Linked DNA regions of Homo sapiens: region 1 is linked to region 2. The links come from fine-mapping of genetic effects on gene expression. A gene starts in region 2. The other region holds a variant in brackets. All regions are shown on one strand. Distances are from middle to middle.

Region 1 (5,377 bases), 130 kb after region 2:
TAAGAGCTGATTGCTCCTAGAATGGAAAATACTTGATATGAGAGCTGCTATTTTTGAGTTAAGTGCAACTTAATCTTGTTTGGCTGAGTTTGCATATCGGCCATTGAAATGTAGGTATCTTTTCTGAGCTTCGCTAGTTGAAGCTAAGATTGAAACTTGGTAAGTTTATTTTATCTGGCAAAACTTGTCAGAACAGTTTGATCTCATTACTTATCTGTATATTCTTGTCTATTTGGAACAGCTCTAGAGCAAACTATCATATTTCTTTGATTCTAAGACCTATGTATTCCCTCTCACATTTTAACATTTCTGAAATTGTCATCTGTACATTGTGTCATATACATTAAATGTATACAGATGCTCCTCAAGACGGGGCTGCATCTGGAAAACCCCATCATAAGTTGAAAATACCGTAAGTTGAAAATGTAAGTCCTTTTCTTTTTGTAAGTCATTTTTGTTTTTTTTTGAAACGGAGTCTCGCTGTGTTGCCCAAGCTGGAGTACAGTGGTGTGATCTCGGCTTACTGCAACCTCCACCTCCTGGATTCAAGTGATTCTCCTGCCTCAGCCTCCCAAGTAGCTGGGACTACAGGGGCGTGCCTCTATGCCCAGATAATTTTTGTATTTTTTGTAGAGACAGGGTTTCGCCGTGTTGGCCAGACTGGTCTCGAACTCCTGACGTCAAAGTGATCCACCTGCCTCGGCCTCCCAAAGTACTGGGATTACAGGCGTGAGCCACTGTGCCCAACCTGTAAGTCATTTTTGAGTCAACGATATTTTTAATTTACAATGGGTGTATCCAGATGTAAGCCATCGCAAATCAAGGAGTGTACCGAATGAGTATCAATTTCTCCCAGTGATAGGTCAACCCTGGTAAGTCAGGGACCATCTGCTTTACCAGGTTTCTTTTTTTTCTCCATAAAGCTAATAAAATTGCTGTGCCCTTTTGCGTCTATAATATTTGGTAGTTACATGTTTTGTTTTAAATTTTGAAATACTGATATTGAAAAACAGAAGTTTTAGTTATTTTTTAATGATTTCAAACCACAAGCTTCTATTAAATCAAAGTGAAATTGCCGTTTGACATCTCATCCCCCTGCCCCAACCCACACAGCCTTTGATGGTTTTGGTTTTTCCATCAACAGTTGTTAAGAGAGAACCAGAAAGAGGCAGTCAGTACCCCCTGGGAAACGTCAGAGAAGTATCTGAGAAAGGGGAGTTTCTGCCATTCTCCCCTCGAACAGATTCCGCCAAGCAGGGTCTGGTTACATGAGCATTGCCTCTTTCTTAGAATCCCCTGGGCGTTTGAGGATCCACCCCGCTCCATCCCTTACCTTTCTTTAATTCTTGTAATTGGAAGCAAGAGGTTCTTTAGCATTGCTGTTGTGAATACTGAGAAACTTGGCTCTGAAAGTTGCTTCAGTATTATTGTAAGTGCTGTCTAGGGATGTCATTAGGGGTGTTAATGGGAAACCTTAAACAAAGACACTTTCCAGGTGCTGAATTCTGCCATGCTGTAAGTGTGCTCTCTAGAGGACATAGTCATATTCATCTTGGTTATGGAAGGCTGTGGTTGGCCTTGTAACAACCTGCAATAATTGCACCATCTAGATCAAGAGGGCCCAGATCCGTGTGACTCAGAGGAGAGAGCAACAACCTTAGTAGGTTCTGCAGCTTCTCACTGTATCTGTCCTTAAGAACAGAATTAACAAAAGTTCTGAGGTGAGTAGTGATGTTAATGAGAGAAGGAAAGAAGAAACCAGAGAAAGCAAGCCAGCCATTGTGATTGTTTCATTTGTGGGAGAGAGCCTCAGGAAGCAGATGATGTTTATATCTTTCCACTGGCCCAGGATTCCTTAGGAAATTTGTTTGGGGACTGTAACTTTTATTATTACCTAGATGAATTGTTCTGAGTGTTGGGCTGGGTGCTGATTAGAGTGCTTCATTCAGTAGGTGGCGTTTCACACAACTTTATGTTTGAATCCCTTCCTCCCTGCCCCTCCTTTTCTGGTAGATTTAAAATGGATGGGCATTATGGCCCTGATAGGAGTTTGGAGGATTTATATTTAGAAGAGATGAAAGTTCTTGACTGGATCTTTAGTACTGTAGATTGAACACGTTTACTTAGGATTGCATGTGAAATAGGGGAGGGAGCAAAACTTAAGAACTTGACTTTATGGTGTTGATATGATCTAACCTGGATATAGTTCAGTTTAAAAATGCCCTTTTTGACATTGGGACAGTTGGCAAAAATCTGAATAAGGTCTGCAGATTAGAAATAGTATTGCATTAGTATTAATATCCTGATTTTGATCATTGCTTTCAGGATATACACACTGAAGTGTTTAGGAGCACTGTGTCTGTATGGTTAGGGAAAAAATATTTTTACATCTGTCTATATATTGCTATATAGAAAGAAGATGAAGCAAATGTGAAATATTAGCATTTAGGAAATCTGGGTGAAGGTTGTACAGGAATTCTTTGTACTGTTCTAACCTTTCTGTAGGAAAGGTTCTGAAACTGTCAAAAAAATACCCCCCAAAAAATCCTCCTTTCTGCATAAATTCCTTTTTTATGGAGGTAGGAACCTCTCTTTTTTTAAAATTGTGAGTCCTTTTC[A/G]GTTCAGTTCTTAAATGTGTTAGGTTAAGAAAATTTGATACGCATATATTTAAAATGCAAGTCTTAATGCCAGACCCAGCTTTATAGTTTTTGTTTGTTTTGTTAAGACTAGTCAAAGTTTTGTTTTTTATCTTTGAGGTGCTGCTAGTGAGATAATTTTTTTTTTTTTTTTTTTTTTTGAGATGGACTCTTGCCCTGTTGCCCAGGCTGGAGTGCAGTGGCGTGTCTTGGCTCACTGCAGCCTCTGCCTCCCAGGTTCAAGCAATTCTTCTGTCTTAGGCTCCTGAGTAGCTGGGATTACAGGTGTGTGCCAACACACCCAGCTAATTTTTGTATTTTTAGTAGAGACAGGGTTTCACCATGTTGGCCAGGCTGGTCTCGAACTCCTGACCTCAGGTGATCCGCCCACCTCAGCCTCTCAGAAGTGCTGGGATTATAGGCCTCAGTGAGCCACTATGCCCAGCCAAGGGAATTCTTTAGCATCTTGAAACAATGACATAAAATTGCTTTATGTGCCAATGTCTAGGTTCCTTTAACTAGATTGTTAATTGAGAATTTCTTTTATAAACTTACTGCCTTTTAAAGTGGCAAATCACCTGAAAGAATAGAAATCAGATGATAGTAACAAAATAGTTTGAGGGAGAAGAAGATGCATTCAATTCCTCTGTCGTCTTTAAGATGGTTGACTATGATTGCAAATATATTGTAGGACACATAAAAATAAAAATGGTTGTGTTAGGGCTGTAGAATTTTAGGCAAGTTTTCATCTTTCTGAACTTACATGTTGCTTTTTTTTTTTTTTATAAGCTGTTCGTGTGATTCTGTATGACTTAATGACTCTAACCTTTCTTTATTCTGCAGAGTGGAGACTGCTGCACGGACTCTGGAACCATGAACATATTTGATCGAAAGATCAACTTTGATGCGCTTTTAAAATTTTCTCATATGTAAGTGTTTTGACCTTGACTGGTTTTGTACTGCATTTCTTTTCATATCTCTTTGTCCCTTTTCTGCATTTATAACTTTTGTGTGTATAAGCTAACAAATTAACTTGGCCAGAATCCAGAGGACCTGATGAAAATGTCCAAATTCTACACGTTGCTGTGTGGTTATTGGAAAGGCATTTATTCTAGTTTGGGTACTGATTATTCATAATTTTGGGCATTTGGTCTTCCTCAGCATTTAAGGTTCTGTTAACCTATTTTCAAAATATTATTTTTTATTGTAATATGCTTTCCTAAAAGTATTTCAAACTATTTGTAACAGAACTTTTACATATTCCCAGGAAGGGAAAGAGAGAAATGATTCTTCTTAGCTTAAATATGAGATTGATCTGGGACTGATTGCTCTTATTCACATTCTTTTCTTAGAACCCCGTCAACGCAGCAGCACCTGAAGAAGGTCTATGCAAGTTTTGCCCTTTGTATGTTTGTGGCGGCTGCAGGGGCCTATGTCCATATGGTCACTCATTTCATTCAGGTAAGAACGATTTTCTCTCCTGGTTGCTGTGGTACAAATTACATTAGGAAAAAACCAGCTCAGCAAGGTGGTCCAAGGGACCCTGTTCCTCTCTTTAATCTTTATCAGTAGTTTAGGATTTAAACTCAGACATTAAATCAGGACATGTAAAGCCATTTTAATTTTCTGGCAACTGTGCCCCCTCTAGATACCGAAAAACAGAATGCCTTAACCTTGGCACTGAATGGTGTGCTGCTGACGTACAAGACCCCCACCCACTGAGTAGGCGCATGGCATGCATGCTGGGATTCTTTGGCACAGAAGCTTTTTTATCTTTTCCTCCATTCTTCCTTTACAAAACTCTGATTGTGTGATTAACTATCAGGAGAGGCAGGATTGAGATCTTTTTAAGGAATTGACCTGTTTTATTTTCCGATAACTGTTGTCTGCATGGTTGGGTAAAAACCTTCAACAATTTGTTTTCCTGTATTGAGAGAGAATCTGGGTTTGGTCAGCAGGAGTAGAAGGTACAGTTTGAGGAATAACCAGAAAGTTTGAAGACTCCCTAACATAGTCTTGTGCCTTTGTAGAGTATTCCTTTTAGCATAAATGTAGAGGTGGGCCTCTGTTGGCATTTGCCACTGTTGAGAACTATCCTTATGTTCAGGCATCTCCTGGCAGGGATTGTGTGAAAAATTACTTTAGACACTCAAAGGATAGGGCTTTGATCGCTTGAGTTTTAGGCAAGGTTAGCCCTTAAATAATTTAGTAAAATACAGTCAATCCTTGTTATTCACAGACTCTATATTTGTGAATTCACCTACTCATTAAAATTTGTAACCCCAAAATCAATACTCATGGCACTTTTTTTTTTTTTTTTGAGACAGAGTCTCGCTCTGTTACTCATGGCACTTTTTGCAGACAGTCACAGAGTGGTGAAAAAGTTGAGTCACCCTGCTGTTGCAGTGTTTTCAGCTGAGGTTGAACAAGACAGTGCTCTGCCTTCTTGTTTCAGTTCTCGTATTGTAAACAAATGTTCTTTTCATGGTCATTTAGTGCCACTTCCTTTGTATTTTTGTGCTTTTAATTGGTGATTTTGCTGGGTTTTTTGAGTGGAGGTCTTGTGGTGTCGTCCTGACTGGTCTCAAACTCCTGGGCTCAATTGATCCTCGCACCTCAGCCTCCCAAGTAGCTGGGAATACAAGCACATGCCACCATGCTTGGCTTAATTTTGCTGTTCAGAATGCAAACAGCATAGTGCTGAAGTGCTGTCTAGTATTCCTGAGTGCAGAAAGACCGTA
Region 2 (5,377 bases):
AAAAAATAAAAAAAGAAAAGAAAAGCATAGAATATGGCAAATAAAAATCCCACAGAAGAGTGAGGCAGCCAGGCAAAGTGACTCACGCCTGTAATCCCAACACTTTGCCAGGTCGAGGCAGGCAGATCACTTGAGCTCAGGAGTTCAAGTCCAGCCTGGCCAGCATGGTGAAACCCCATCTCTACTAAAAATACAAAAATTCGCCGGGTGTGGTGGCGCATGCCTGGAGTCCCAGATACTTGGGAGGCTGAGGCAGGAGGATAGCTTGAACCCGGGTGGTAGAGGTTCAGTGAGCCACTGCACTCCAGCCTGGGCAACAAGAGCGAGACTCTGTCTCAAAACAAAACAACAACAACAAAAGAATGAGGCAAAGAACATGCCCAGGAGAATGAGAAAAGAGATGCCAGGTTGCCAGATGTGCAGCAAGGTGAGGGGATGAACAGTCAGATTGGAGAAGGTCAGCAGTCTCCAGCAGTGATGTCTTCAAGAAGATGAAATGGAGAGAATTCTCTGCTATATCTAGATATTCTGAGAGGAAATTTAAGCAACTGGGGGAAGAATTTGAGGTAGAGTTTGTGAGAAATACATAGAAAATAAATGATTTTAAAAAACAAGATTATTAATTCCAGGAAAAATAAAAGTTTGTGCAGGAAAAAACAGAAGGTCTCCCTGGGGAGGACAGACCCAAGGAGGAAGCTGGGCAGGGAATTCCAGGGTCCTAGGTATTCAGAATATGGTCTAATCCTGGGCAAGTGTGCTTTGCATGGGCAAATCCCCTTGGACCCCTTGCCCTGTGGGGAGGGCTGCAGCTGGGGGAAGGCCGGAGATGTGAAGGTAAATGCCAGAAGAAACAGCTAAAAGAGGTGAAAACGTTGCCTCCAGAGAGGGGAAGACGATGGGGGCAGGGCTCTGCTGTTTGTCTTAACAAATCTGGTACAATTATTCGATTCTATATGTGTGTACATGTTCTAAGAAATATTTCATTAAAGAAAAGAAAAGCATTTAAAAAATAAAAATGCAATTCATGAAAGTTCACGGAACCTCTGGACCACTTCTGCTATACTTAGAGATCTCAATAATAGTTTGAAAATCGCCCCAGCTGCGCTGGCATCGCGGCAGCCCCCGGGGGAAGGTGGGAGCGGTGGAGAGGCCGCCGGTGGTCCGTCCTCCTCCCCCCGCCCGCCCCCTCCATTCCCCTCTCCTGCCGCGGCGGCGGCTGCGGGCCGCGCGCCAGTCTCCTCACCCCACCTCCCCCAAAAGTTTGAAAACCACAGGACCCAGCGTGGGCAGTACAGGGAGACGTCGTCTCCAAAAAGTTACAAAATTAGCCGGGCGTTGTGGCACACGCCTGTAGTCCCAGCTACTCGGAGGCTGAGGGAGAAGGACCGGTTGAGACCAGGAGGCTGAGGCTGCAGTGAACCCTGATTGTGCCACTGCACTCCAGCCTGGGTGACAGATCAATACGCTGCCTCAAATAAGAAAAGAAAACCGCAGAGCTGGGCCTTCATTTGAGACCATGTGGGTATCATTTTGATTAAACCACAAAGCATTTTCTCTCTACAGCAGCCCACAAGGGTGAATCCCACTTCCTTTTCCTCCCAGGTGTCACCTCTAACTCTTCGTGTCAGGAGTTTTTCTACCTCTCCGGAGTTCTTTGGCTCTCAGGAACCTAGCACGGCATCACGCGAGTCCCGGCTCAGGTGAGGGGGGAATAAAGGGAACAGGAAGCGCCTTTTGCGGGGCTTTGCAGGCTGGCGGTCAGCGCCTTTCTGCACCCGTGTGCCTGGGGCCTGTCACTCTCCAGCCCCAAGGCCTTCAGCGCATTCCCCGCAGAGCTCCAGGTTACAGTTTCCTCAGCCGCACAGCAAGCATGTACCTCACATTTTTAACTTCTGTCAAAGAGTGGGCCCTGCTCTCATGAGTTCAGCGCTCAGTGGGAGCCAGGTCCCAAAAGTGAACTTCAGGGTCACGCGAGAAGCACGTGTACGCCCCACAAGGGCGTGATTTCGGGGATTTGTCTTTTTTTTTTTTTTTTTCCAAGCTGCTGTGTGCTCAGTCCCTGAGACAGACCCTGCCACCTCACAGGTGCTCAACAAATAGTTCTGGAGTTAACTAACTTAAAAGTACTGTAAAAGAGCTACACAGCAAATTAAATTCGCTGTGCAGCGCAAAGGCACCCTACACACTGCGTGAACGCTTCGGCTCCTGGAGCGCCGGCGACTGCGAAGCCAGGACGCAGGCAGCGGGGAGAGGCAGAGGCGCCGGCCCCCGACCGTCAGTCAGAGGCGGGAGCAGGCGTGCCCCGCCCCCCGGGGGGCGGACCCGGGACGCGGCGGCGCGGGGGCGGGGCCTGGTTCTCCGTGCCGGGGGGGCGGGGCCGGGACCGAACACACCGGGCCGGTTGGGGCCCCGCTCGCCGGCGGGAGCCACCGGAGCCCCGGCCACGAAGGGGTGCGACCCCCCGCCGGCCCCGCCCTCCCGGCTGCGGCCTGGCCAATCAGAGCGGCTCTTACTGGCGGGTGGGCTGAGCCGGCCCAGCTGCTCGGAGGCTCTGGCATGGTAACATCCCCGCGCGGGGGTGGAGGGGCTCGGGGCGGTCCCACAGCGCCCCCTGCGGCCCGGGCCGTGGCCGATGGGGCGGGGAGGCCGCTGGGGATAGCTGGGACCCCGGGGAGGGCGAGGGAGGCCAAGGGTGAGGGAAGAGAGCCCGGGAGGGGGGATGGGGGCGGGGACTGGGGGCGAAGGGGCGGGGGAGGCCATGATGGAGCCTGGCCGGGGGCGAAAGGTGCGAGAGTGGCGGGACTGGGTGAAGAGTGGGATTGGGAGAGGTGGGGGTGGGTTCGCGGAGAAAGATCGGGAAAGAAGAGAGAGGGCGGAGATGAGGGGACTGAGGGGACCAGGGGACAGGTGGGGACCAGTTTCCCCTCCTGGGATATTTGGTGTGCGACATGCCCTTCCCCCAGCCCCAGCGCCCGTTCCCTTTGGAAGCCTGGGTGCTCCTCAGACCACTTGGGGACTCCCTGCTTCACCTTCCTGCATTTGCAAGAGCTTGTCTCCTGAGGTGGAGAGGGGGCCTCTGAAGAAAGGGGCTCCCAGCCCAGGCCATCAACAAACTAACGACTCTGTGTGACCTTGGGCAAGTCACTACCTTTCTTTGGGCCTCAGATTTCCCATCAATTTTTTTAAAAAGGAAATGCATGAAAATTAAATCCCAGATCTCTTCCAGGGTCTAAATGAATAGGTTTTTGAGGAGGAAGTTTAGGAGAATGGGTTTGGTAGGGAAGCAAAGGAAAGGATGAAGATGGAGGCGAGGCCTTGGGCTGGGGCTGGAGAAATCCCCACGGGTGCGGGGGGATGGTAGACAGAAAGCCTGCCGGGCTGGGGCTGGCTAGCCTTATCCTGTTGGAGGGATGGAAGAACTCTAAGGAGAGGAGGAGGTTGAAACCTAACTCCACAATGATGGAGACCAAAAGTAACATTCGCTTCTTCAGAGGGAGAGTGATGAGATGGCAGGATCAGAAAGAAGCAACAGGGGCCGGGCGCGGTGGCTCATGCCTGTAATCCCAGCACTTTGGGAGGCCGAGGCGGGCGAATCACCTGAGGTCAGGAGTTGGAGACCAGCCTGACCAACATGGAGAAACCCTGTCTTTACTAAAAATACAAAATTAGGCGTGGTGGCCCATGCCTGTAATCCCAGCTACTCTGGAGGCTGAGGCAGAAGAATCACTTGAACCCGGGAGGCAGAGGTTGTGGTGAGCTGAGATCGCGCCATTGCACTCCAGTCTGGGCAACAAGAGCGAAGCTCTGTCTCAAAAAAAAAAAAAAAAAGCAACAGGAAGATACTTTCTAGTAAGGCAGATCTTTGGGGAGCAAGAGGAAGAGTAGGGCTGGTCCAGGAAAGTTGGAAACTAGGATGGTCTTTGAAACGGAAGGGCAGGTGCTGTTTGGGGCAGCTGAAGAAGGGCCGCAGGTAGATCACAGGGTAACCAGCTGGTCTCTCAGCCTTTTTTTTGATGATGGCTACCACTTTCTGAGAGATGTGCCTCCCAGCCTTCATCTTCAGGAAGTGGGAATGAGTCAGACCAAGCAGACCTTGGGAACACCTGGCTCGCTGAGGATTTCTGGATTGTGTAAGGATTGGGGTTAAAAAAGAAAAAAGGAAATGTATCTGAATGTAAGCAGTATCATCTGTGGCGCCATCATCCTTGCTGGGAGGCAGCTTTGTGAACTGGTTGAAAGCACAGGCTTTGGAGTCAGACTGCTTGGATTCCAAACCTGCCTCTCCCATTTAATGTCTTGGAACCTTGGTCAGGTTACTTAATCTCTGAACCTCAGTTTCTTTATCTGTAAAATGGGAATAATAACCTCTGAGATGGTTGCCAGGATTAAATGAGTGTTTGACACAGTATCTGGCTCATAATAAGTGCTCAGTAAATATTAGCTATTAGCTGTTATCATTCCCTCTTTCTGTTTTTTTTCCTACTGCCTCTCCATTCTTGTCCTTTTCTCCTTTTATTCTTCTGAGTGCTAAGTTCTGAGATGCCCCTTAGATGTGAAGTCCCAGAAGTATTGATTGCATCTTTGGTGGTGGGAAAGGGGTGGCCCCTCACTGGCCCAGGTGAACATATGATGATCAGATGATCAAGTGTCTCTTCATCATCTCTCAGCCCACAAATGTGTTTTTGTTCCAGGGAAGACACAGGATCTGCTTCTCTTTCAGCAACCATTTCTATATCCTTCCCTGTCACTAGTTAATGTCTTCATATTCTCACCCAGAAATAAAATAAGACCCAAAGTTTTATGGCACTGCAGCAGGTAGGAGAGGGACGGGGTGTTTCAGGAAAGCAGGGACACAACACGGGAAGCTCAGCGAAGGAAGGGCTTTGGAAGTTCTGTAGTAGTTTATGTTTATTCCATTGTTCTGTCCTCTGTGGGGAACTGTCCAGAATAGGCCAGTGTCTGAATCCTGGCCAGAGGTCTTCATCCCAAGTTGAAGATGACTGTATACAGTTAGCTTTATTAGGTTTTCTCATGCCAACATTTCAATCCAATTTCCTTTTTCCAAGCCACAAAGACTTCTGCCAAGCTACCTCTCTCTGTCACAGCCTGTATGTCAGAGAATTTATACAGATGTACATATGCACACGTGTATACACTGTTTTCAAAGTGCATTTTAGGATATTCCAGTATGCAAAAATCTAATAAGGTTAGAGATGAGACTGCATTTTATCACAGCACTTTGTGTGCAGGGCCCTGACTAAACACTTGGGGGAGGTATAAAAGGAGAAAACTCAATCCCTGAATGTAGGGAAATCCCCACATGAGTGGGAGACAAGCAGTCCCACATGAAACACCCAGCAAACATTCACAGAGTAGC

Evidence for each region. PIP is the estimated chance that this variant, and not a neighbour inherited with it, causes the effect. A credible set is the group of variants that fine-mapping cannot tell apart.
Region 1: its variant is the best candidate, but not a certain one, in a credible set for the expression of PRPF40B in whole blood (INTERVAL, PIP 0.70).

Annotation. Positions count from the first base shown.
Region 1 is chr12:49,748,985-49,754,361 of GRCh38, forward strand. It overlaps TMBIM6 (transmembrane BAX inhibitor motif containing 6), which reads left to right. Exons shown (of 10, transcript NM_003217.3): 2 at 3,480-3,565; 3 at 3,989-4,097. The coding sequence starts at 3,510. Among named protein-coding and RNA genes, the nearest start is that of TMBIM6, 10 kb to the left of the region's middle. RefSeq lists an enhancer at 4,867-4,956. The variant A/G (reference allele first, on the strand shown) is at 2,619.
Region 2 is chr12:49,621,035-49,626,411 of GRCh38, forward strand. It overlaps PRPF40B (pre-mRNA processing factor 40B), which reads left to right and starts at 2,527. Exons shown (of 26, transcript NM_001031698.3): 1 at 2,527-2,559. The coding sequence starts at 2,557. It also overlaps a transcript of FAM186B not described here. RefSeq lists silencers at 1,333-1,382, 2,243-2,742 and an enhancer at 1,573-1,662.